Linked DNA regions of Homo sapiens: region 1 is linked to region 2. Evidence: fine-mapped QTL for protein levels in blood plasma. Region 2 holds a variant in brackets. A gene starts in the other region. All regions are shown on their reverse strands. Region 1 holds the start of CALB1 (calbindin 1). Region 2 overlaps DACH1 (dachshund family transcription factor 1).

What was found. A credible set is the group of variants that fine-mapping cannot tell apart. PIP is the posterior inclusion probability: the model's chance that the variant is causal. The UK Biobank Pharma Proteomics Project read protein levels with antibody pairs (Olink). The fine-mapping took linkage between variants from a reference panel, not from the people measured, so its PIPs are less certain.
Region 1: it holds the start of CALB1, and the variant in region 2 is the best candidate, but not a certain one, in a credible set for the plasma level of the CALB1 protein (UK Biobank, PIP 0.50).

What each region holds. Positions count from the first base shown.
Region 1 is chr8:90,076,756-90,089,197 of GRCh38, reverse strand. CALB1 (calbindin 1) reads left to right here and starts at 6,319. Exons shown (of 11, transcript NM_004929.4): 1 at 6,319-6,579; 2 at 7,096-7,172; 3 at 10,751-10,825. The coding sequence starts at 6,501.
Region 2 is chr13:71,764,480-71,776,921 of GRCh38, reverse strand. The region is part of intron 1 of DACH1 (dachshund family transcription factor 1); the gene reads left to right. Among named protein-coding and RNA genes, the nearest start is that of DACH1, 97 kb to the left of the region's middle. RefSeq lists an enhancer at 2,824-5,074. The variant G/A (reference allele first, on the strand shown) is at 5,965.

The DNA of each region.
Region 1 (12,442 bases), not on the chromosome of region 2:
TGCTGGCACATTTGGACCATGTGGATAATTTTAAAATTTATGTCTGTGTCCCATTCTTTGATATTTTGATTTAATATTCTTACAATTGGGCATTGAGTTTTTTTTAAGCTGAGTGATTCTAATACGCAGCCATATTGGAGAACCACTGCAATAAAGTATTGTCCTTCCTTGAGGTCATTAATATATGGTATGCTAATCTTACTATTCTAACTCTCAGTTAATTTATTTAACATCTTGTTAAACACTCACTATGTACTAGGCACAATATTTGACACAAAGGAGACAAAAAATTAGGAACACTTCATTTCTGTCTTTATGGACTCATGGACAAGGGAGAAGTACAATCCTAAAGGTATATCAATGTAATAAATTTTATAATAAAAGTAAGTACAAGGTTAGTGGAAGTACAAATAAAGGAATGATCAGTTTTGAGCAACAAAAGAAAAGGTCAGGAAAAGCTTAAGATGTAGTGATTCTTCATCCTGGAAGATTAGAGGGAGAGGAAATGGCAGACAAAAATATTCAAAGAACTGAATATTTGGAGAAAAGCAAGTAATTCAGTACAGCCTTAAAAAAAATGAGGTGGGGGGAGAATATTGAGAAAACTGATATCAGAGGACAAGTGAAATTAGAGGGTATTTCATATGCCATACCATGGGAAACCACTGGATGAAAGGACATGGTCATGTATGTATTTTAGAAAGAGCACACTCACCAGGTGTGTTGGCATGTGCTGGTAGTCCCAGCTACTTGGGAGGCTGAGACAGAGGATCATTTCAGCTCAAGGGTTCTGGGCTACAGTGTGCTATGCAAATTGGATGTCTGCACTAACTTCAGTATCAATATGGTTATCTCCCAGAGCAGGGGACCAACCGGTTGTCTAAGGAGGGATTTAAAGTTGGGCCTTTGAAACCACTTTATAAATAACTGTCCAATAGTTGAGAGTCCAGGCAGGGAAGACAGAGAATAGCAAACTACTCAAAGATACTCTACAGACAGAAGTATTACCCTTGGCGAGAGGCCAAGAGAGAACAAGCTGGCACAGTCTATACCTGGGCAAGGCTGCTGATGGATAATACTCCAAAAGAAAAATGCTGAAGAAGGAAGGAAAGGAAATTTCCCAAAAAAGAGAATAACATGAGCAAAGACATTCTCAAAATATATAAGATTTTTTAAATTTTATTTTTTTGTGACTAGAGAGTTGAATATTATAGAACAGTGTTGCAAATAAGGCAGAAAATATATTACAAAGTTCTTTGGAGTCCAGGCTTATGGACTTAAAATCTATTCTTCATGCAAATGGTACCCACTGAAATTTTTGAAGATTAACAAATTTGCTCAAGTTTAAAATACAATCGATTTAAGATGCATGATTATCATATATCAATTTGCCAATTATAGAGCATTGGCTATAAGATGCATCACATATCAGAGATAAAATATGAAAAGTGGAGTTTAAAATTGATGAAAAAATTGGTATCAATGGCAGAAGCCTGATGACTTTAGGTAACTACATAAAAACTATAAAATCTGACTCATTTTTATATCGTTTTTTCTTTATATATGAGGGGATTCTCTATCTTTGAAGAGTGAAAATATAATTAATGTAAATTAAAATATTTGTAACAGTATTTTCTAGCTTTTGTAATTCAGGTGGTTAGATGAATTTAATGAGGCCAAGGACTTCAAAATTATCCCAAGTGTGCCAGTTAATAACCAGGAAAATCATTTTTGCTCAAGGCCACAGTCTATAATCCTTTCTAGAAATCAATTTTGCAAATGCATACTACTTATCACAAAACTACCAGAGTAGGCACAGTCACAAAATTATAGAATTAAAGAGGTGGAAGAGATCACAGAATTTATAAAGTCAAAACACCCTCAGTGTGTATATCCCCTCCAAGACACTCCCAGTAGAAGCTGGCCATTCAGCTTCTACTTCTACATTCTTCCCTGCAAACTGTAATCCTGTGAGGTCCAAGACTCTGTCTTGCTTACTGTGGTAGCATCCTGAATAATATACTGTAGTCAATAAATATTTCTGAGTAAGTGAATGAGTGTTCTTATGGGGGAATTGTACCATTCATGCAGTAGTACCCATTGCTGTAGAAGAGCTCAAATTTGAGAAGTATTTTTAAAGGGCAGTAAAAGTCACCTCTGGTGTCTCTGAGAAAATCTGCCACCTCTTCTTATGTAAGCCTTGCAAATACTTGCAGGCAGCAACTCCAAGCCACACTTTCCTATTTCAGTCCACAGTTTGCCACATATCATTGTTTCCAAGACTTTCTACTGTGCCCTATATGAGCTACATTTGGTCAGTTTAAAAAAAAAAAAAAAAAAAACTTCTGGTGCCCAGAATGAAATAATTATTTACCTAGCCAGCCCAGGCGACAGACTTCTCTGACCAAATGTATGCAAATCCCTCGCTTTGGGGGAAAAGTTCTTCAAATGGCAGTATCATGCTGATGAGGGATCTTTCAGGGAACATTAATAGGTAAAACTGTGAACTCCCCCAGCAGGCTTCATTCATCTATTAAGGACACCTCCGTGAGGGACTAGGATGCCAAGAGAGAGTGATGCATTATACTCCTCATCCAATTAAACCCATAGTAAAATATTTTGGAGGGTTTTCTTTCCTGAGTGGAGGCTAAGAAAGCATTCATTAAACCTGGGAAGTTCTAAGTCTTCCAATTTGCATAGTGAATTGGAACTGTGGTAGCCTGAATATGAATGGAGATGTGGTAATTCAGTAACATGAAATGGGAAATGCAGTTTAATTACCCCAGAGATTTTTTTTTGGAACATAAATTGCTTCTACTTTTGTAACAATATTGGATTATGAACCCATTCACCTTGATGTTGTGTAATGAAGCCTATAAAGCAAGTCATAAAAATGCTTTGTTTGCAATGCTGTTTTTAGAAACTCCAATCTTATGGAAAAATCTTCTCATTATTGAAAGCATTTGTAGTCTCCCCAGAATCCTAGAAATTAAAAGATTCCTGAGCGCAAGGTCCTTCCTACCTAGTTAATGAACGAGGGAAGAAATATTCCTCAAGTTACCTCAAATCTGTAGATCTGGATTATACAGTTCTTTACTACTACCATAAAGTATAATTTAATCTAGAAATGGCCCAAATATACATCTGAAAAGAGATATTGATTTGAAGTGACAGTCCAGGACCAATAACAATTTTAAGGGAAAACACTTTTTATGAAATTACATTTCTGCCATTAGAAAAAATATCTGAAGAATAACAAGTTCACCTTAGAAAACCAAAAGGTAAATTTTAAAAAATTAATATTGAATGAAAATTAAAGGAAGAATAACAATCTACTTTTTACTTATTACATTAGTATAAAGTTTAAAAAGCAATAACATTCAGAGTTAATGAGGATAAATCATCCTCAGACTTTGGACATTTGAGTATAAATTGCTACAAATTGAAGCAAATAATTTGGAAATGTGTATTAAAATCTAAAATATGCATTCTATTAACTAAAAATACTGCTTTTGGGACTCTGCCCTGTTGTATTCAGAAACATGTATAGCTAATATAAATGTATAAAGGTGTTTATTGCAGCATTGTGTGTCACAGTGTACTACTAGAAATAGATCCGTATATCTGTAATTATAGTTAATTAATAAAATATTAAACTGTAAAAAGTATACATTAGATGTTGATGTTAATACTGGAGGGATGCCCTTGAATTAATAATAGAAAGTTGAAGGATAATATACAAAACATAGTCCCTTTTCTGTAAAACCAGATAACAACAACAAAAAAAAAACCTTTAGATATGGATTTGTATATTTCCATAAGCATGGCTCTTTTAGTGTTGATTACCTCATGGTAGGGGCAGCACTAAACTGCTTTAGAGCTCCATAATCTACATTAGTTCCCTCAAAAGCCACTTCATATAAACATAAAAAGAACACACAAAAAAAACTATGTCCAAACTTGCTGTTTGGACATAGTTCCAAGGAAGTCTCCCATTTATTTCTCACTCTCTCTCAAGTCACAGCACCTATACATTTCTAAATGGAAATTTGGAAGTTGCCATAGCTTCAGGAAAGTGAATAAGAAAAAAGATTACTTTCATATAAATATTTTTAACTTTTACAAATTGTCTTGTAATACTTTTGGAAGTTAAGATAAAATTCTAAAAAACCAACAAACAGATTATGGTGAAAATGTTTAGGAATTTTTACCACAGTGTGTGGTCTCTTTTTAGGAAGAAAATTAATTTTAATTACTTTTTAAAATAGTAGAAATGTTGCTCTTTTTTCATCAGTTTGTTCAGTCCATATTCCTACATACTTTTTCTAGCATTTTTCTTTGTCTCAGAACTGTATCCAAAGTCTAGACATTGTTAGCTCTGTCAAGACTAGCAAGGGTCAGAGTGATTCTTCAAGTCATTCCTTAGTCACTGCATTCTCACTCTCTCTTCAAAGTTTATTCTCTAGCGCTGGTCTCCAAGTTCACACACTATATTTTTCACACAGCGACCCTGGCCACTAACATAGGACCAATAGGACCATCAGTGAGAATCAGATGAGGTATCATAAGTAAAAATAATGTATGAACTGGAAAGTACTATGGAAGTGAGGATTCCATTAAGAAGATTATTGAAATAGGCTAGCTTCAAATTGATGGGTCTCTGAAAAGGATACTTACAAAAAAACTCCACAAATATAATAATGGATAGAGCCCTAATCTCAAAAACATAAATTTGAGGGGTCCCAAACTCAATTACACAAGGTTAAGAATATAGAGCTTGGTAAATTCTCTCTCTCTCTTTTTTTTTTTGGAGACAGAGTCTTGCTCTGTCACCAGGCTGGAGTGCAGTGGCGTGATCTTGGCTCACTGCAACCTCCGCCTCCCAGGTTCAAGCCATTCTCCTGCCTCAGCCTCCCAAGTAGTTCAGATTACAGGTGCCCACCCCCATGCCCAGCTAATTTTTGTATTTTTAGTAGAGACGGGATTTCACCATGTTGGCCAGGATGGTCTCGATCTCGTGACCTTGTGATCTGCCTGCCTCGGCCTTCCAAAGTGCTGGGATTACAGGCGTGAGCCACCGCGCCCGGCCGGTAAATTCATTTTAATTCACTTTAAGCTTATATTGGCTATGTGTAGATTTTCTCTTGTTCCTTCATTTTGTTTTAGTACAATTGTAATTAGACTTTTGGGATACATTTTTAGTGGACTTCAAGGTCCAAAAGACTCAAAGCCAAATACTCCAGAAGTACTTATGTAAATAAGAAATAATCCAAGTATATAATTAATTATATTAAAATACATAACACATATACATATGTATATATAGTACAGAACATATATACATATGTGTGTATACATACATATATATTACATATATATATATATATATATATATATACATAACATAGCATACATTTAGTTAGATAGCTTTTCCAACTCTGATGGTGACTTCCAATTTCTGAAAAATTCTCCAGTAGGGGTTGCTTGAAACAGAAAGAAGGAGACGTGTGTGTTAAGGCGACTGAATGGGGCTGTGGTGGTAGCACTAACGTACCTACTTATGAACCTGGTCAGATCCTTCCTTTCTCTTTGTTTTAGTTTACTCACTCCTTCTAAACTGAAAGGCAGTAAACTCTAGTATCTGTAAGATGACTTCCTTATCTAAGATTTTAAGGTTTTATAATTTAACTGTATTACTTTCCAATTATAATTCTACTTCATGCTGAAAAGAAATCCATAATCTAGCTTTTTTCGTGTTGGCAAGGTTAGTTCATAGAAACCATCTTAAGAAACATTGACATGATGGCACAAAATAGAGTGATTATTGATAGCAATCAACTCATTGTATACATTAATCAAATTATTCTAATGCGTGCCAAGGTTTCACATGCTTTTTTTTTTTCAAACAAATACTGAAAAGTCTTGGAGAAATCACACAAGAATATAATAATCTTTTATGTGATTTTACCCGTCATCAGCTTTCCCCTTCTATCTGAACATTTAAACCTCTCTAGATAACAAGAGTTTTACTATAATATTCAGGAATAAGATTCTTCCTGGACTAGGAGGATGTAGGGGGAAATGAGCCTCTGTTTTCAGCATCCAATCTCTGAGCAAAGGATCTCCCACCACCTGCTGCTTCCAACAAGCCCAAACTCTCGCTCCAGCTAGCTTTCCTGGGAACAGAGCAGAAAACTGGAAGGGAGGGGAAGAAGGCTGGTGAGAGCAAGAGGCGGGGAGTGAGGAATGGGAGGCTGGAGGAGGCGTGGCCCGGCTTGGGGCCGTCGGGATAAATACTGAGAACTGGGTGCGGGGTGTAGGGAGAGAACTCTGGAGGAACGCTGAGCTGAGCAGCACCGAGGACAGCGCCCGGCAGCGCCCGCGCCCAGGTCTCCCTCCGCAGCCCTGACTCGCGCACACGCTGAGCTTTTGCTCACTCCCCCTCGCGCGGACACAGACACACGCATATTCACACACCCAGACACACACCCCGCTGTACAATGGCAGAATCCCACCTGCAGTCATCCCTCATCACAGCCTCACAGTTTTTCGAGATCTGGCTCCATTTCGACGCTGACGGTGATTATCTTCTCTTTTTAACTGTTTCAAGACCCGTTTCCATGCCCCTTCCCATTCTTTGCCCTTTTCTGAGCCTCCTGATCCCATTATCCCTCCTTTCTATTCTTTACTTCTTCCCCCTTCTGCCTAATCTTATCTTCTTATCTCCCCGACTGGCCGCCAAACTGTCAACCTGAAAGTTTATATTGTTTCCACCGTAATCCCAAAACCTTAAACTTTTGTCTTTCCAGGAACGGTAATGGTAGGAGAGAGAGAGCAGGGATTGGGGAATGCTGCCCCCCCAAAGTTTCTGTGGCTGCGCTTAGCACCCCAACCATCCTCCTTTGTCCTCAGTGGATCTAAAGTTTGATACCCCAGGAGGGGAGCGCTTCACCGTCTGTACACTTTGCTGGTTAATCAACGTCCAGGCAAGAGAGAGCCTCTCGGGTCGCCAGAAAGATAACTGTCTTGGAAAGTGAACGGGAAAGACACTTGGAATGAGATATCTGACACCTGGGTGCCTCTTTGTCTTTGCAGGAAGTGGTTACCTGGAAGGAAAGGAGCTGCAGAACTTGATCCAGGAGCTCCAGCAGGCGCGAAAGAAGGCTGGATTGGTAGGTTCAAGTTTGCGAAAAAGAAAAAAAGACTTTTAACCCCCAAATTAAAACATTCTTGTGTTTTCACAAAAAGCCAGTAGCGTAAAGCGCTTTCTGGGTAATGTAAACGTTTATTGACTGCGAAAGGCAAGAAAAAACACTTTTCCAACTCGAATACAGAGAAATGGGAAAGGGGAAAGAGACTGAGAAAGAGAGAGGGGGAGAGAGAGAGAGAGAGAAGGGAGGGACAGAGAAGGGAGGGAAGAAGGGAGAAAGGGAGACAGACAGAGAGAGACAGATTTTCTAAAGGGAAAAACCTTGCTATCTGAAACTGGAGCTTTAAATATATATATATTCTATACTAGTACTTGCATTAATAGGTCTTAAAAGGGAACTGTGGGTGCATGAGATTCTTTAGCGGATCACCACCTCTACCACTGAGTTTGATTAGGTAATTTTTAAATTCTCTTTTACTGTGTGAGAAATAAGGGGGTGGAAATGCATTTCTGCCCCTTGGTGGTCAAGAAACAGATCTGCAGATTATGGATCTCTTACTCTATCACCAATTATTATTGTTGTGATGTTGATGTAGTTGGGGAGATGAGAAAACATCTTGTCCTCACTAAGGGTAAGTTGCCCAACTTGCAACCTAACAGTGAGAAAGAATTTAGCAAGAAAAGATCTTCATTTCTGTTGAAAGCAAGAAACCCAAAAGGTAGAGAAGTAAAAAGTAAAACAATTTTAAGAATTTCATGTATTGTAAAAAAAGCAAAGTGATACTCTGATGGGCAGCAATTGATGGTGTTTTGAAAATGGCTATGTTCGTTATTTAAGCCATTAGTTAATTAAACAAATAACCATTCTTATTAATTATAAATGACTCCCTTTGGGCATAAATTAACCTGTTAAGAAAATATGTTGTCAGCATAAATATAAAATACAGTCAGCTTTTAAACATAGATGAGATGGTTGTCCAGAGGAAAATGGGTTAAAAATTGTACTACTCTATTGAGGTTTATGTAACACTGCCTTTCAGAAGGCAGTGTTGAATTGGGATGAGTTACACGTTAATGGTCTTTGGCCTTTTTGACTACGTTTAGAAAGAGATTTTACACTACCAATGATGTATATATTATATAGCAGATCACCACCTCTAATATTGAGTGATATATATAAAATTTAATAATAGAACTTTTTGCCCTATCTAAATTGAAAATTGTGTAATATACATTTCTGTACAGCATATTCAAAAGAATCCCAGAGGGCTCTAAATGTATTATAATGCACTATAGAACTATCAGTTACAAAAATCATTGACCAAATTGATTTTAAACCAGATTGTGCTCTAGGGATTGTTTTACCCAGATTTAATATTATATAATCTAAAAGTATAATAGAACGGAATAAAATAGCATAAAAATGTTTTATATACTCTCCACCCTCCCCATGTCTTATATATTGCCATGTAAATAAATTTATGCAATACTGTCATTATAGCTTTATATATCTTTGGCTAATCTAATAAAAGCAATTATCTTCCTCATTTAAAAATACATATTTTAAAATCAGGTTGGAAAAGTCTTACTTTCCATAAAATTTAGAATTAAAACCTTGGAAGATGCTTCCAGCAGGTAATGATTATATTTTATTTTGTGCAGAAGTAATTTTAATATTGAAATCTATTTTCAGCTTAGAAATTTAAATATTCATGAACTTTAAAAAAATATTTTTCTTCCTCTGATTTTAATATTTGTACCTTTTTGTAAGCAATATCTTCATGTTGGAGATTTAGAATTTAATTATTTTTCTCTGTTTTGGAATATTCAAAGCTCCAATTATTAGACTATAATGTAATGATACTAAACAAGCATAGTTATAGGATTATATCAAGTTGCTTAATACCTTGATTCTTGAGCATTTTTCTGGAATGTAAATACAATCTGGATTTTTCTGAATTTAGTATTTTTCTTGATTTGGGTAGTTAAAATCTAAATCAAGATGTGGATTCAGAGTTTCATATAGTAGATACATGTTTCATTATACTACTAACTTCATTGCATTAAACCTACTTGTATATATTTCTTCTCTTTCTTTAGAACATAAAAATTGCCCTTATAAACCAGGCTTTTTGCATTTCTAGCCATAGGATAACAGATTTCATTGCATTAATGGAAACATTGTTTGGCTTTTCGTATTAATAACATGAAATTTCAAAATTTTCACTAGGTGAATATAACATTAATTAAATATAACAATGCAATATATTTTCAGAAACTATCCTTTTACACTAAACATAGTGTTTGGTCTTTGTAGTTGCACTCATTTTTATACATTTTTAATTGGTGGTGATTATATGTTTTGCACTGTTTAAAAAATAGATTTTGACATACTTGTCAGAAACTTCACAAAGTAAATGTCAAGTCTGCTCGTGAAAGTAGTGGTATTACACCATTTTAAAATTTAAGGACAGATGCTTTGGTTTTTGTTTACGTTAAGATGTATGTAAAAATAAAAAAACTGTAGGACCTGATATTCCCACTATTGCCATGGTTGAACACTTTCATTTTCTTACAATTGTTTCTATAACAAAATTAGATAAATACAAATTGTAATTTATCCATAGTAAGTTTTATAAAGACTAAAATATAATTATATTGCTTTGTTATTATTTATTATCTTAGTTCAACTAAAGATGTCTACATTGGTTCCAAACGGCTTTTATAAATACTAGTAATAATGATATTTAGTCTCAATATAGCCCTTTAATTATATTAACCTATCTATCCCCAAAGCAAACTTGTGTGGTAGATAATACCACCATCTTGTTAGCTATGATGAAAACCGAGACCTTAATTTGCTTTCCCAAGGACGTAGAATAGAACATTAGTAAGGGCTGACCTATTTTAAATAGGCTTCAGCTAATGCAACAGGGCTATTTTAAATGGGCTATGTTGGAGACCCAAGGGTAAAAATTAAACCTCCTGAATACCAGTTCTATGTTCAGATCACTAGTTTATAGTTCATAGCTCTCTAATCTATTTAATTTTTAAATTTATTTAATTGATGAATGCCTCTTTTATGCTTAAAACAATCTTTGCTTACAAAGTGAGTTAATCTTTAACATTCACATTTTTTGCTTGTTCAAAATGAAAACATATATTACTCTCCATAGATAAAACATTATGTTAGAATGAGAAAAATGTTGTAAGACAAGATAGTGTAGCAATATAAGGTAATCTTTAATGAAGCAAGCATTGTTTAAAATATATTGATGGTGATGATTATGTTAAAATTCACTAAAAGTTATGAATGGAATGATTCTGACTACACTTTCAAAGGATAGCATAGTCTCAAAATTAATAATAGAAGATAAATCATATTAATTGAGAAATAATCATGATTACAACTCTTTCATTTGGAACTAATAAATACTGTGTATCAGTTATGCCTTTAATTTTTTTGAGAATAGTTAATCATTATGCATATTTCTAAATGGTTCTAATTTTGGTTTTTCTTTGCAGTAAGTTATTAACACCATCACAAGCATAACTGGTATTTTTTTAACAAACCTCCTACCTGCTTTTATATAATTTTAGGAGTTATCACCTGAAATGAAAACTTTTGTGGATCAGTATGGGCAAAGAGATGATGGAAAAATAGGAATTGTAGAGGTAAGGAATTTATGCATTTTTCTGATTTAATTTTAATAAATGAGTTTCAATTTTGAAGTTGTCTTCAAGTCAAGTAAGATATAGCAAGACCCATTCAGTACAGTTTATTTTACCTAAGTAATACATTATCTTCTGTTCAGAAGTATAAAGTTAAAAAATGTTCACAAATGAAAAACATCTAAGAGTATTCCTAACCCAGGGCCTAAATTTCATATATTACAAAATTGAGACCATGGAAAAACAAAATTGTTTGCCTCTGGTCATACAGCTATTTGCTGGCACAGGTGCAGTTAGAGGAACAAGTCCCTGACTTCTACATGAGTATCAATCACATTCCATTACCCAGCCCCACTTCCATACAGTGTCTAAGCACATGGTCCATCAGTATTTCTTATCACTTAACAGTGTAGACTTGACTTTTAAAATATAAAATAAAATGTTTGCAGTCCCTGTGAAATATTTACAGTCCTTATTTTTCATGGCAAAAAGCTGCATCCTGGTTTGACAGTTGGCCTTCGTAAAAACAGAATAATTTAACTAGAGTGAGTGAATATTTTATGATCTGTTATAGGTACAGATTTCATGTGAATCTTTGAAAGTTAAAACTGTGGGTGTCACATCTTATCCTTTCACAGTGACTTTTCCTATTAAGGGCAACTTATTTTTGTCTGTGAATCAAGGAAGCAAAACTGATTATGCATCAATTCTTCTGCATTCTCAGATTTGTGAAAGAGCTGTTGCTTCCCTTATATCTACGTTTCCAGCCTGTGGTGTCTTAGCCTCTTTCTTTATCTCAGCAGCCTATTAGAGAAATTGGGTGGAAGTCTTTGTCCAGAAAAATTAATTAGGTCATAATTTGAAATATGCCAAATCATAACATAATTATGTTATTTATATAGTGTTTCTCAGTGTATTAGATTGTGAAGTATTCTGGATCTCAACAACATTTAGTAATAATTTACCTTTGATTCAGAAAAATAACCTGGTTTTCAAATAATTGATCTTATAGGACACTTGTGATGCCAGTGTGAAATACACTTATTTTTAAACAGCTGATACAAATAGAGTTAAGAGAGGACATACTATTATTATCTTTGTAATTAAAAATTTTCCCTGGAGTACATACATTCCCCTTTACCCGTGTGTAACTCATTACTATATAAATAGATAATAGTAATGGGACTTACAGATAGACATATAGGCCAACTAATCAAGGTATGAAACCATCAAGGATAAGAAAATAACTTTTAAATTAAACATAAATGAGATGAGGTAAATCTAATTATTCAAAACTAGTTTGGAAATATGACATCAGTGAAATTACGGATTGGCTCTTTTAGAGTTTGACATACTTTATAATCCTAGTTAAGGAAAACCTGTCACCTTACATTTAACATACTTCTCCTTGAAGGAGTCCAATGGACTCAGCTATTTATTCAATTTCATTTCTTCAGTGATACTAGATTGTGCAGTAAAAGGCATTGATCTGATTCACATGGATTTTACATTTTTATAAGGATAAAATGGATGAGCATGTTTTGAATCCCGGTTTTACTTTATGTGATACAGTCTAATCATTTATGACTTATTATTTCAGCGCTATTTTGAATGAGAGGT
Region 2 (12,442 bases):
GGGTGGGGAGTGATGAAGGAAGAACAAGTTGTAGAGATCAAGTCAGATGAGAAGTCACTTGCTGAAGGTAAAAGATAAAGAAGACAAAGAAAAAAATTACCAGTGAGTGACAAAGTAAAAGCAACAGCAGGGTTTATTTGGGGTGTAGAAAAGATGCTAGTTTTTCTATCTGGGTAAGTAAAATTTAAATATATGTTTTATTCAGTATGAAATGAAATGATATGTAAGAAGGTACCCTCAAAAAGTGAAAAAGCAGCTGTATAAGATTATTTCACATGACTTTATGAATGATACCTTTTCAATGAAAGCAAATGATCCAGGGACTCTTAGGAATTAAGACTGTTATTTCTCCTTTTTTATTGCTTATTATAGCATCACCCAAAATGGAAACAATGAATTAGCATTAACTGATCTAATTCTTTATTAATCAATATATTAAGAAAATATTGCATTAAAATAACATCTAAAGTTATAATACCATACTATTTAACTTTTCTTTAGGTATTTCCAAAATTAATAAACTCAATTATACATAGGTGTTACATGTCAAAATTAGCCATGGTAACTCTCACTTCTATAATCTGACCTTTCTAAAAACCTGAAAATCAAAAGTTTATCTTGAATACATCCTAAAAATAGCAGTAAAAAGTGACTTCATAATGGTGTTGCCAACCTTGGTTGTGAAACATTTTACTATGGACTATTTCCCTCATAGATTGTGCCCATTAAAAATGGTTCTGCTAAAATTTATAGTGTAATAGTGACTTTGAGAAATACACAGGAAGGAAGGAAATGTTTGGTCAAATTACTGCTTAATTATTCCAAAGCTGGAGTGACTGGCTTTGTTTTGCGCCCTTTTACTGAATAACTTTTGATAACAATCAAACTGAAAAGTCAAGAAATTAACTTTTATGGAAATTGAGTCATGCCTTAAATTCATTTTTAATTCTTATACTGCTTATTTAGTAACCAATAAAACTAAACCAAGTTGTGCTATGAAGTGAAGGATCATAACTTCAAATAAGCAATTCCATTTTCTCCATTATCCCTACACTTGGCTGGCAAAGAGTCTCTAGGAATTTTTTAATGTATTATTTAAAATTGAAAATACTAATGTTCATACTAATATGATGTTAGATTTTTCAGTTATGTTTACTGGCAATAACAAAAAATTTAAATTCAGTTCTGTTTACTGCCTATCATTGTGTTATTTTTTCCTTCCTCTGTCAGTGACCTTCAAATAATCTTAATAATATAAAGGAATGTCTGTGACAACTATATTCAGTTTAGACTTCACATTTTACAACTAAGACAATGTTACATATAAATACATAAGAACATATCATAGCTAATGTATATATCTTTGTGTGAATATGCATTTGTTTATATATGTATCTATGTTTATTTTTAGAGACAAAACTTTAAAACCAATACAAAGATATTAAATCATTTTGCGATTGTACTAAGACAGTAGAAAGTGAAATGAACATACCATTATCTTTTAAAAATTTATATCACAGCCTTAATTACCTGGTTTGTCTATATGGCCATGGCACCAGAATAACTGTTATCTGTCTGTCTTCTTCAGTTTGTCAATTTGAGGTGGCAATTGTTTTTCTTGAAGAGACTTGCCCTGTTGCCCAGGCTGGAGTTCAGTGGCATGCATTTATGGCTCACTATAGCCTCAAGCTCCTGGGCTTAAATAATCCTCCTGCCTCAGCCTCCTGAGTAGGTAGGATTACAGGCGAGCACCTAGCTAATTTAAAAAAAAAAAAAAAAAAAAAAAAAAAAAAAGCTTGTGTTGAGATGGAGTCTTGCTCTGTTGCCCAGGCTGGTCTCGAACTTCTGGCCTCAAGAGATCCTCCTTCCTCCATCTCTCAAAGTGCTGGGATTATAGGCATGAACCACTATGCCCTGCTAGGGGAGCATTCTTGTAGCACCTTTCAGTGATATCTTTTGGTAAGCAAGATGGCACCGATTTCACATCACTTTTGGCCTAGCGATATGTTTGTAAAGACCTAGGAACAATGATCTTTCTAACAATGGCCTGTGTTGATGAATCATCAATTTAGTTTCATAGAAAATGACAGTGACCTATTTTGTCCCTGTCTACCATAATGCCTTATGGTTTTCTGAAGAAGAGTTGGATTTGTTAGAGATTATAGTGCCTTTTGAGGACATGTACCTAGAAAGTGTGTTCTAGAATGGACAGCATTCTGATCTAATACAATGAGCACACTGACTTTGGAGTCTGATTAACCCAAGAATGAGTCAAAAGTTACTAAGCTTTTAAAATCCGTTTCCACATCTGTAAAGCATGGATTATAAATAATGACTTCCTCAAAGGGTTGGTATCATAACTAAATTATACGGTTTCTACCATATAATATGCACTCAGGAGGTGTTTCTTCCTTCTGCCTCCACATGTTTTCTACTGTAGTGGGATGGCAGGACTTCATCACTTCTACCTTGAAACCTACAGTGTCTCACAAGGCTGCAGATGAAGAGAGTCATTCCCATTTAAAGAACACTATGTTATGTTGTCCAGTCTATTTGCATGTTGATAACAGAAACCCTCCATACTGAGAAATATAGACATGACCAGATTATTGTGTGATGTGTAAAATATGAAGATAATTTTGGCAATGTAGCTTCTACCTTAGAAGCTAATTGCTTGATTTTGCATCTGTTTTCAGAATACTCAGTGGAACTTTAGGTGTATGCATTCTAGTTGTGTATACCAATTTGTAGTTGACTAATTCTGCAAATCTAACTGATTAATATGAACACCAGAAAAAAATAATTTCACTTCAGGGCAATGTTAACCCAGGGAGTCACATCACTGAATATCATTTTGAAAATTTGTTTATTAAAAACATTTCTTTGACATTGGAGCAGCTAACTTGTTTGTGGTGTTGTTGCTATTGTTCCTTTTTTTTTTTTTTTAAACAGGCAATAGAGTGACTGGCCTGTGCCATTATTCTATTTATAGAAAGTAAAATTAAAGCCTTAAAGATAAACATGCATAGTTTGTGAACAAATGCAAAACAACAACCTTTATGAAGATTATTTGTACGCTATTTCCACTGGTTTACTCCAAAGATATATTCTCAATGATAATAAAGTAATAAAAGATTGTTTTCACAGCTGTTTGTCTTTGATTACATATTTCTTTGAAGTACTGTAATAAGACAGACTTTGAACCTGGAAAGAGATCAAATAATGAATTGTTCTGCTTTGTGAAGCTTAAGAAGGGATTTTATTGTCGAAACATATAGTGCGACATATTTTTTCTTCTAACAGTTAAATAATGGTTGAAAGTACTATGAGATCATTACAGATGGACTAGATTAAAAGTCTTGGGGCCAAGTGTTAGTGATCGTTACCAAAAATTGGTGCTTTGGTTTAAAAAGTCAGGTTTTACAATTACCAAACATTTCATTGGTTTAGTTTTGAGTTAAAATAGAACACAGTATTAATGCTAGAATATATTCTCAGACTTGTAATATTTATATCTAAAGACAATATAAAACTTACATTCACAGATCTCAAAAGACTTATGCCAAATTTGTTATCCACTTCAGGTTTAGGCAGATTAGATTAAAGAGATTCTGTAAATTAAACTAAATGTCATTAGATAAAAGAACATTAACAAACATCATATGGTTTTTCTTTTATCTAAACTAGCAATTTTGAAAATGTAGCGGAAAGTTCAGTAGTAACACTCTTAATAGGTTTTCAGATGTTACATATGAATATGGTTGTAACTATTGTTATTTCTACCTAAATTTTCCGCAAGAATTACATAGTATCTATCAATCAGCAGAGGTGTGGTACATATTTTAAAATAATAGAATTAGGGATAATCATTGCAGCACTTTGCTCAACCTAGGATATATGTACTATGTAGTATCATTATAAAGCATTAAATGGTAATTGGGTGGGCATTTCAATATAGCATATTTTGTTATTATAGTTATATCGAAACAACATTTTGCTTTTGTAAACACTTGGCAGTTCATGAGTATACATTTTAGAGAGTAAGAATAACATGTATGTGCATATTTTTAGATCTCATTTATTCAGCATACTATTTCTCTAAACTAGTTTTTGTTGTATTTGGAAGAAACTTTTTTCTTTATTTAAGATATAAACCTTTCAAATGATAATTTTCATGGAAATACTAGACAAAGGAATATTGTAACTTTAGAGTTTTTATGATGAAGGTGTGTTTAAGAGATGTCACTTTGATATTTTTACATTATGTCCTACATTTGTCAGCTAAAACCAGGATATTGCCTCAATGAGAAAAAGCATGTTCTGCACTTGTCAAAAGGCAGTAAGTAATGATTAAAATAGCAGTGTGAAACGCTAGGAGATTAAAGTGATGCTAATGATAAGTGAGAGAAGAAAAGGGCAAGCTATATTTTAATCCCTGAGAGAATGGTTAATGACTTCTATTGCCTGAGATTAAACTAAACCTGTCTCATCAGCTTTTTCTGCCTGGTGAAAAAAAGCTCTCTGCACTTTAATTTATTAAAGTCTTTTAAGGAAGCACATTGATCTACAGAGGTTAAACTTTTAAAAATTGTGCAAAATACACACAAATGCTTTAACAAAAGTGTGATTTTGTTGCTTTTAGGCATGCTCACATATTCATAAAGAACCCATTGTCTATTCCTTAGTATGTTTAATTAAGGAATGTTAATTACTCAAACTAGAAGGTTTATTCCTTTTAAACATCAGAACATATTCATATTACTGTGTAGGCAAGGGGCAAGTATACTGTAGAGGATATCAGTCTATATGAAGAGATTAATTTACAGTTGTAATTACTGCTTGGTTTGTTTAGAATAATACATGTACAGTTCAGAAAATGAATTATTTTATTTTAAAACCCTTTTAAGGATAGTAAATTGTAATCTTTAAATAGATCAACTTGCCAGTAACTTTAGATAACACGTTATTGTGAATTTCAATGTTTGATGATTCTCTTGGACTTTTAATTATAGTGGCTTTTTTTTTTCATCCTTTACTCATCTTCAACCATAAATGGTAACCCACCTTTATGTAACTAACATTTACCTTTATACAGTAATATTTACCTTTTCTTAGTGAGATAAAGAGTGTGTGTGTATGTGTGTGTGTGTGTAATGATATGGATATAAGAAGATGAATAATAAGAATTTTACTCAAATCCTTTCTATGAGTTTGTAGCCCATAAAAATGTTTAACATTTACCAACACTATATCTTAATTATGTTAGGTTATCTATCACAACAGAATAATTTCCACCAAATCAGGTCATAACAGTTCATTGATTCTTTGTAACAAGAAAAATGTTGTTTCTACTTTCTAGAATGGGATACTTGCCCTTTCTAGAGTTCTGTAAGTTCTACTTTGGTTCAAAAGTTACTGATTAGTTGCAAAAATGGATGCAGGGATACTTAAATTGACATACTGATTTGCATTTAAATACTAAGTGACTTTTTAATTCAACAATTTCGTGGCCGACTTGTATCTCAGCTTAGAAGAAATCTGTCATTTGGTCATTCTGGCAAAGATTTATTTATTTATTTATTTATTTATTTATTTATTTATTTATCCTTTTGCTTCTTTTTGCATTTGCTGGTGGTGTTCTTCTTCATAATTCCATTATTAATACTCCTCATTCTTAATAGTATATTTCTTTCTATTGACTAAACCAAGAGCTATAAGGAAGATCTTTCCTAAAATTTCATTATCTAAAATATTTTTAAAACTTTATTTTCTATGTAACTTTTTAGGCTAGGGAGTTTAAACTGAGTACATTCTTTGATGTTAATGAAACACCAATTTTTCTGAAGGCCATGTAGCCCTAATGAGCAGCTTCTTATAAAAGAACATTTAATCAAGGTTTATTTTTAACTTGTTTAAACAGATCTAATAGTTTGTGCTGATTTCATTTCAGTATAATAATTGCTA[G/A]CAATCCTATTAGTAAGTCCTAGTACAGGGAAGTTAACACAAATTCCAATCTAATGAGAGTGGTGTCACAGCAAAAACCATGTAGTCAAGGAAAGATCAGTATTGCACTGGAGGGAAAGAGGCACCTGGCTATTCTGTACATAGTTTTGTTGCCATAAGTCTTTGAGTTCTGAGTTACTTAATGCTTACATGGAATTTACTAGATTTAGTTAATTCAGTTTCTTATGGCCTTTAAAAGGCAAAAAAACTTAATGAAAACAACACCTACTTTAGGGGGACGTTCTGAGAAAATAAATTACGTTTTCTACCCAAGCACATTTTGGTACACATAATTTTCTTATAATAAAGCCTATTATGTCACTTAGTTTTAATTTGTTACAAGAGCATACATAAAAATTAATCTTTAAATGCGTTCTTTCCTTCTTGAGCTTCAGATTGAAGAAAATGAAATGTTACTGGATTACGGGGCATGTGAATAATATAACTGATAGAATTAAAGGATGATTTAAGACTAGCAGAATGATGGATAATTTCAGCTGATATTGTATAATAGGATAATTTTTAAAAGAGGTGACAAAATAGTCTGATTAAGAGCCAAATATTTTAAATACCGTTAACTTACTATTAGAATTGGTTTAAAATAACATTGTTGATACTTTAGACTGTTCGGTGAGTGTGAAGATTTCATTGCATTCAAAAATGAAAACAAGATAAGAAGTAAGACTCTGGTAGAGAAAACGTACGAAGGCAAGGATTTCAGGCCTTGTAATGAAAGTGCATATCTGCCAAGTTCAGGTTATAATCTTTTAAACTTTTTATTACTTAATATGACACAGTGACATTTAAAATATGGAGAAATTGAAGATAAATAATATGGAGTGAATGGCAGAATTGATTTAAAATTTTAAAGCTGTACTAAAAGTATTCTAATGCACTGAAGGACATTTGTAAGTTATACATTGTTTATAGGTTTCTGATGAGAATCCCAAAGCATAATGTATTAGAGCTTGCCTTTGCCATGAGGGCAAAAGAATATTGTCCATAGAAAATAGTGGATAGTAAAATTTAGCCTCTTTTTTTATTCATGTAAATCATCTGCTTTTTGTGAAAGGTTTTTATGCATAAGATCATGTCACATATTACTAATTTCAACCAATAACTGATATATTTGGTCTTCTGGAGGATTTCTTTATGAGATTATCATTTATTGTTCTAAAAAGTTGAAATTAGAATAACGAATGCTGTGAGAACTGTGATTTTTATACTCTCAGTACAGAATAAGGAGTACTTTTTCACAATGGTTTTAAAATCTTGGTATGCTGATAACTTGATGATTTAAAAGTATCTTTTACTACATTTGGTTAAAAACTGTCTGATATACAATCTACTATTTTTCAGAAAAGTGACCCTCACAAAGTGCACATGATACTCAACCAAGGTGCTTGATAACAATGTAGATTTATTGGTCTCATCCTGGATATACTTAATTTCTCACTCTAGGAGCAGAACCTGGAAATTCTTATTTTTAATGAAGTTCCACAGGTGTTTCTATTGCACACAAAAGTTTGAAAACTACTATTTTAGAGAGAGTGCAACACTTCATAGGCTAAATGGAAGGGTCTATTTTTGGCACTTTGTTAGAATAAACCTAGAAGATTTTTAGTGTAGAGTTTTTATATGGAATCTTTAATGTGGTTAAGAAAAAAAAATTATAAAGGCATTTGTAGCTTTAAATATGAAGAGTATGTGGTACATAGATGACAAATTTAGGACATCTTTCACAGATGCTGTATACTCAAATGAATCATGTCATCTGGCTCAAGTTGCTATTCTATCTTAACTGCAAACAAACTCACACTATTTGTACTGAATGCTTATACAAGTTGCATTCTGAATACTAAGTTGGCATGTATTTACAAATCTGAGAGAACTGCTATGTTTAATGCACAGGTTGTCATAGAAACTAATTAACTTTTATTTCCATGTCAAGATAAAGTAGTGTAATACAGATGAAAATTGTAGCAAAGGAAATAGTATCACAACTAAGAGAAAAAAAGCTCCAAGACTCAGAAAATGTGCAATCAAAATGCGTGATGTCAAATAACTCAGTGGTGGATTGTTTTTAATTCTGCAAATTATGATGTTAAAAATTGTACAGACAGAGTCCACATTTTCCTAGAGCTGTTTAAGCAATTTAAATGGAATTTGGCAAACAATAGATTTAGTATAACATCTATCAAACAATGCCAGAAAAGTTTTCCAGCTTAAAGATTATTCTGTATTTATTTGAGCTGCCTTATTTTGTTCTACAATTACCTGTCTTTTGAATTAGAGAAGAAAAAATATGTCATCCATGAAGCTCACAGTGTGCTCAGGGCTGTAGAACTGTAACTGCAACACTTTTAAAAACATCTTATTTATTTGAGAGCAAATATTAATACATTTCATACTTTTTTCCAGTCACATTTGTTGAATATGTTTTCATCATAAGAAAGCAATACACCCTTCTGACATAGGCCAGAGAGGAAAGAAAAGAAAGGCAATCTGTAAGAATAAAGCATGAACTTTCATCACATCTTGGCACATCCTAAACCTTCCTACCTGCAGTAAGCTTTCTCCCTGGCCTAGTCATTAGAGAAATCGACATCTTTTTGTGGCCTTATACTTGTTCCAAAAAGTGAGGATGGAAAGTAGGTAATCTATGAGTCATCTTTGTTTTGATTATGGCATGTCTTATTCAAGGAGAGTGACGATGAAGGTAGAATTAATGGTGAAGAATATTAAAAGAAAGAGGTCAAGTAATGTGATTGAATCGCTGGGACTGGAGAGACAATAATGGGGCTTATATTCTTTAAATGATTTTAATGAGAATATACTTAACATTCTGAAATTCTAATTATATGATAGCCCATAGTACTCTTAATACTACTAATAATAGGAAATTGCAGAATTCAATACGTAAAAATTAAACTTTTTAAAAATGCTAAACTTTGCCTATGGAGCTAAATTATATCTTATTTTAAAATATTGCTTCATTGCTACTTATAATATTTTTAATTATATTATAAAACATATTCTTCTCATCCCACTGAAACTTATACAGAAGGAAAAGTGTTAAAGGGCTAGGAAAATATTATTTCATCATTTCTGTTCCATTAGAATTCACTTGGGTGGCTGAGAAAATGGTTTATGGATTAGAGAGGGAAGAACAAGCTAAAACATTTCATACCTTCATCTCTGATAAATTCCCCAAACTCATTCTTTGCATCTGAGCCATAAATAACAACCATGCTTTTTGCTATAAAGAGCTTTTTGCCTACACCAGGTCTTTTGTCTTGGAGATGAATGCTATAATAAATTTGGAGTCTTGGGGGGGCATTGTTTGAACTATAACATTATGGTTTACAACTGTTGCTTCTATGATGAGGAGGATAAAAAGCGACTGTGAAGCTTGATCTCTGTCATAGAAATGGATTAATATTTCAGTCTTCAATATGGGTCAAGTGTATGATTCTCCCCAAAGCAATTCACCATGATTAATTTTTATTATGTGGTCATTCAGATTCTCTTTATATTCTTAGATATTTTATTCCCCCACCAAATCGCCCCTTGAAATACTATAACTTAGATTTTTCACATAATAGCAGAAACACAAGATTTTTAGATTCTTATAACAGTTTTAATAAAACCTCATGGAAGAAACCTCTAAAGTGTTTTCTCAAAAATTATATGAATAACTTAAATAATAGTAGAAACTTAAATCATTATATTGATAATAATTAATATTAACTTAATTTATTGATAAACAGTGTTAAATATATATTAATTGCAAAGTAATATGATGTTTTAATTTGCCAATGACTAAGTAATTAATTATTAGGAAAATGTACTCTGTCACTGGGGAAAAAATGGCAGTTGCATAAAGATGTAGCTTTTAAAGTCACCTTTTTCTGAGGAGAGGAGGGTGTTAACTAGGAAAACAAGACCTCTCTGTTGTCTTTGTTATCTTTATCTAGACTATAGTTTTTCACATATATCTGCAAGATGCTAATGAGTTTAAAACTTTGGGGGAAAAAAACTTTTTTGGCCTTTAATTAAGTGAGAGCTTTTTTTTTTTAAGCCTTTTCTCAGGAGGAAACTGACACATTTTATGTGTAAATAATTTCATGTATTGAAATTGTTTTTTTCAGTGCTTTCATTCCTCCCTTTGCCCTGCAAAATTTAAGGAACTTCAAGATATTAATTTTCAGTGCTTACATTAAGAATTCCTACAAAGTACTTATAAGAGCAATCAACAAGTCTTATTCAATTATTTATTTTACAAGTTATTGTTGGCAGTCTACTGACTGCCAGTCATGTCAATTGTAAATTGAAGGGAGCCATGAAGCTGTGGGAAGCCCAAACATTCCCTACAGACAATTATATGGGGAGAAATAGTTACAATCACTGGGATCAGGGCTAATGGAGGTTACATTATGTTTGGTACAACTATATATAATTTAGTTTTGCTAGGCAGTAGGTCTCAAACCTGGCTACACCTTAGAAAAAACTGGGTTGCTTTAAAAAAATTCTGATGCACAGGCTTCACCTTAAGAATCTCAAGAGCTGAATGAAGCCCGGCCATTGGAATTTTAAACATCTCCACAAGTGATTATAGATTCTAAGGTACTTAAAGGCTACAGGTGACAACCTGAAGAGAAGAGGGTACAGATGGAGAATGAGAAGGAGAGGTGAGTAGGAAATTTAGGGGAAATAGTAAATAATCTTTTTGAGGCCAGGCGTGGTGGCTCACGCCTGTAATCCCAGCACTTTGGGAGGCCGAGGCGGACGGATCACGAGGTCAGGAGACCGAGACCATCCTGGCTAACACAGTGAAACCCCGTCTCTACTAAAAATACAAAAAATTAGCTGGACGTGGTGGCGGGCGCCTGTTGTCCCAGCTACTCAGGAGGCTGAGGCAGGAGAATGGTGTGAACCCGGGAGGCGGAGCTTGCAGTGAGCAGAGATCGCGCCACTGCACTCCAGCCTGGGCGACAGAGCGAGACTCAGTCTCAAAAAAAAAAAAAAAAAAAATGAAGAAGAAGAAGAATAATCCTTTTGAGCAACAGCATTAGATTTAGACCGACTCTGTTTCACATCCTGGCTTGGTCATTTTCTTATTCCATGACTGTAGATGTTAGTTGTTATGGAAACATTACTTATAAAACTGGGGGTCTTAAATCTCACTTCCTAGGATTGCTAGAAAGAGTAAATAAAATAGTGTATGAAGACATTTCAACAGTGCTTGGCACATCCTATGATAACCATCATTATTACTGTTTAAAGATGGCTGGAGAAATGGGCAGGAACCAGATAATAATGGCTCTCATTTATTCTTGTGTTTAGATTTTTATCTTGAAAAGAATGAGGAAATATGGAAGATTTTTAAGACAGTACATTACATAACAAAATTTGCATAGTATAAGTAAGACTCTAGCATCCCATTGTGGGACAAATTGGAAAGTGTACTACAAATGGAGGCAAGAAGGCTAGTTAGAAGATTATTATAACAGTCCCTGTGGAAAATAAAAAGAGCCTTTACTGAAACAGTGACCACAAAAATGGGGAAAAGCAGATGGACGTGACAGTGCCTCAAGGGGTAGAACCCATGGAATTTAGTCACAGATTAGAAGCTTGTGGGTAGGCAAGGATAGATGGAACAGGTGAAATCATAAGTTAATGTCTTCCAAATGCCTGGTTTGTATGACTTGATGGATGGTGCAACAGGAAGGGAATACAGAATGAGGAAAAAGATAACAAATTCATGGAAATGTTGCACTTGAGATAACGGTAGAATAATCAGGGGCTGGTATCCAGGGTTAGTAGACTGTATTGGTATCAGTGGGGACCCCTGCTTACCTCACTTGAAGATTGGAAATTGGAATGAATGGAACTTTCTGGGTATAAGGATTTTGAGAGACAAGGAAGAGCTAAAGATAAAATCTTGAGTAATATCTACTTTTAGGAAAGAGTGGAGAGGAGGCTTTGAAAAAAGGGAAGCATGGTTAAAATGTAAAAAGACAATAAATTACATTGTTTTAAAGTCCAAAGTCCAAAGACCAATCGTATATTTCAAGATGTAAACAGTTGTCAAGATGCCTAAGAAATTAATCTGCAGAAGAGTTCTCCTAATGGATATGTCATCAGATATTTACCACATTGGCATACCTTCAGATTGTAAAAGTAAAGAAGTAAAATAAGAGCTTTTGCATTGTGCATATATTTATTGAGCATGTACTTTGAGCACAGCAGTAGGCCAAGCAATTATTAGATATGGGGAGTGAAAACTTACGAGACTTATACCCTAGTGAACTACATCCCAAGACAAACAGCATTCTGAGACTTCATCACTGCTTCCACTTATTTTTAATTTAGAAATTTTGTGGGCTGTTTATGTTTTCTTTTCTTTGTGCCTTTATTGAATACTTTATCTCATTTA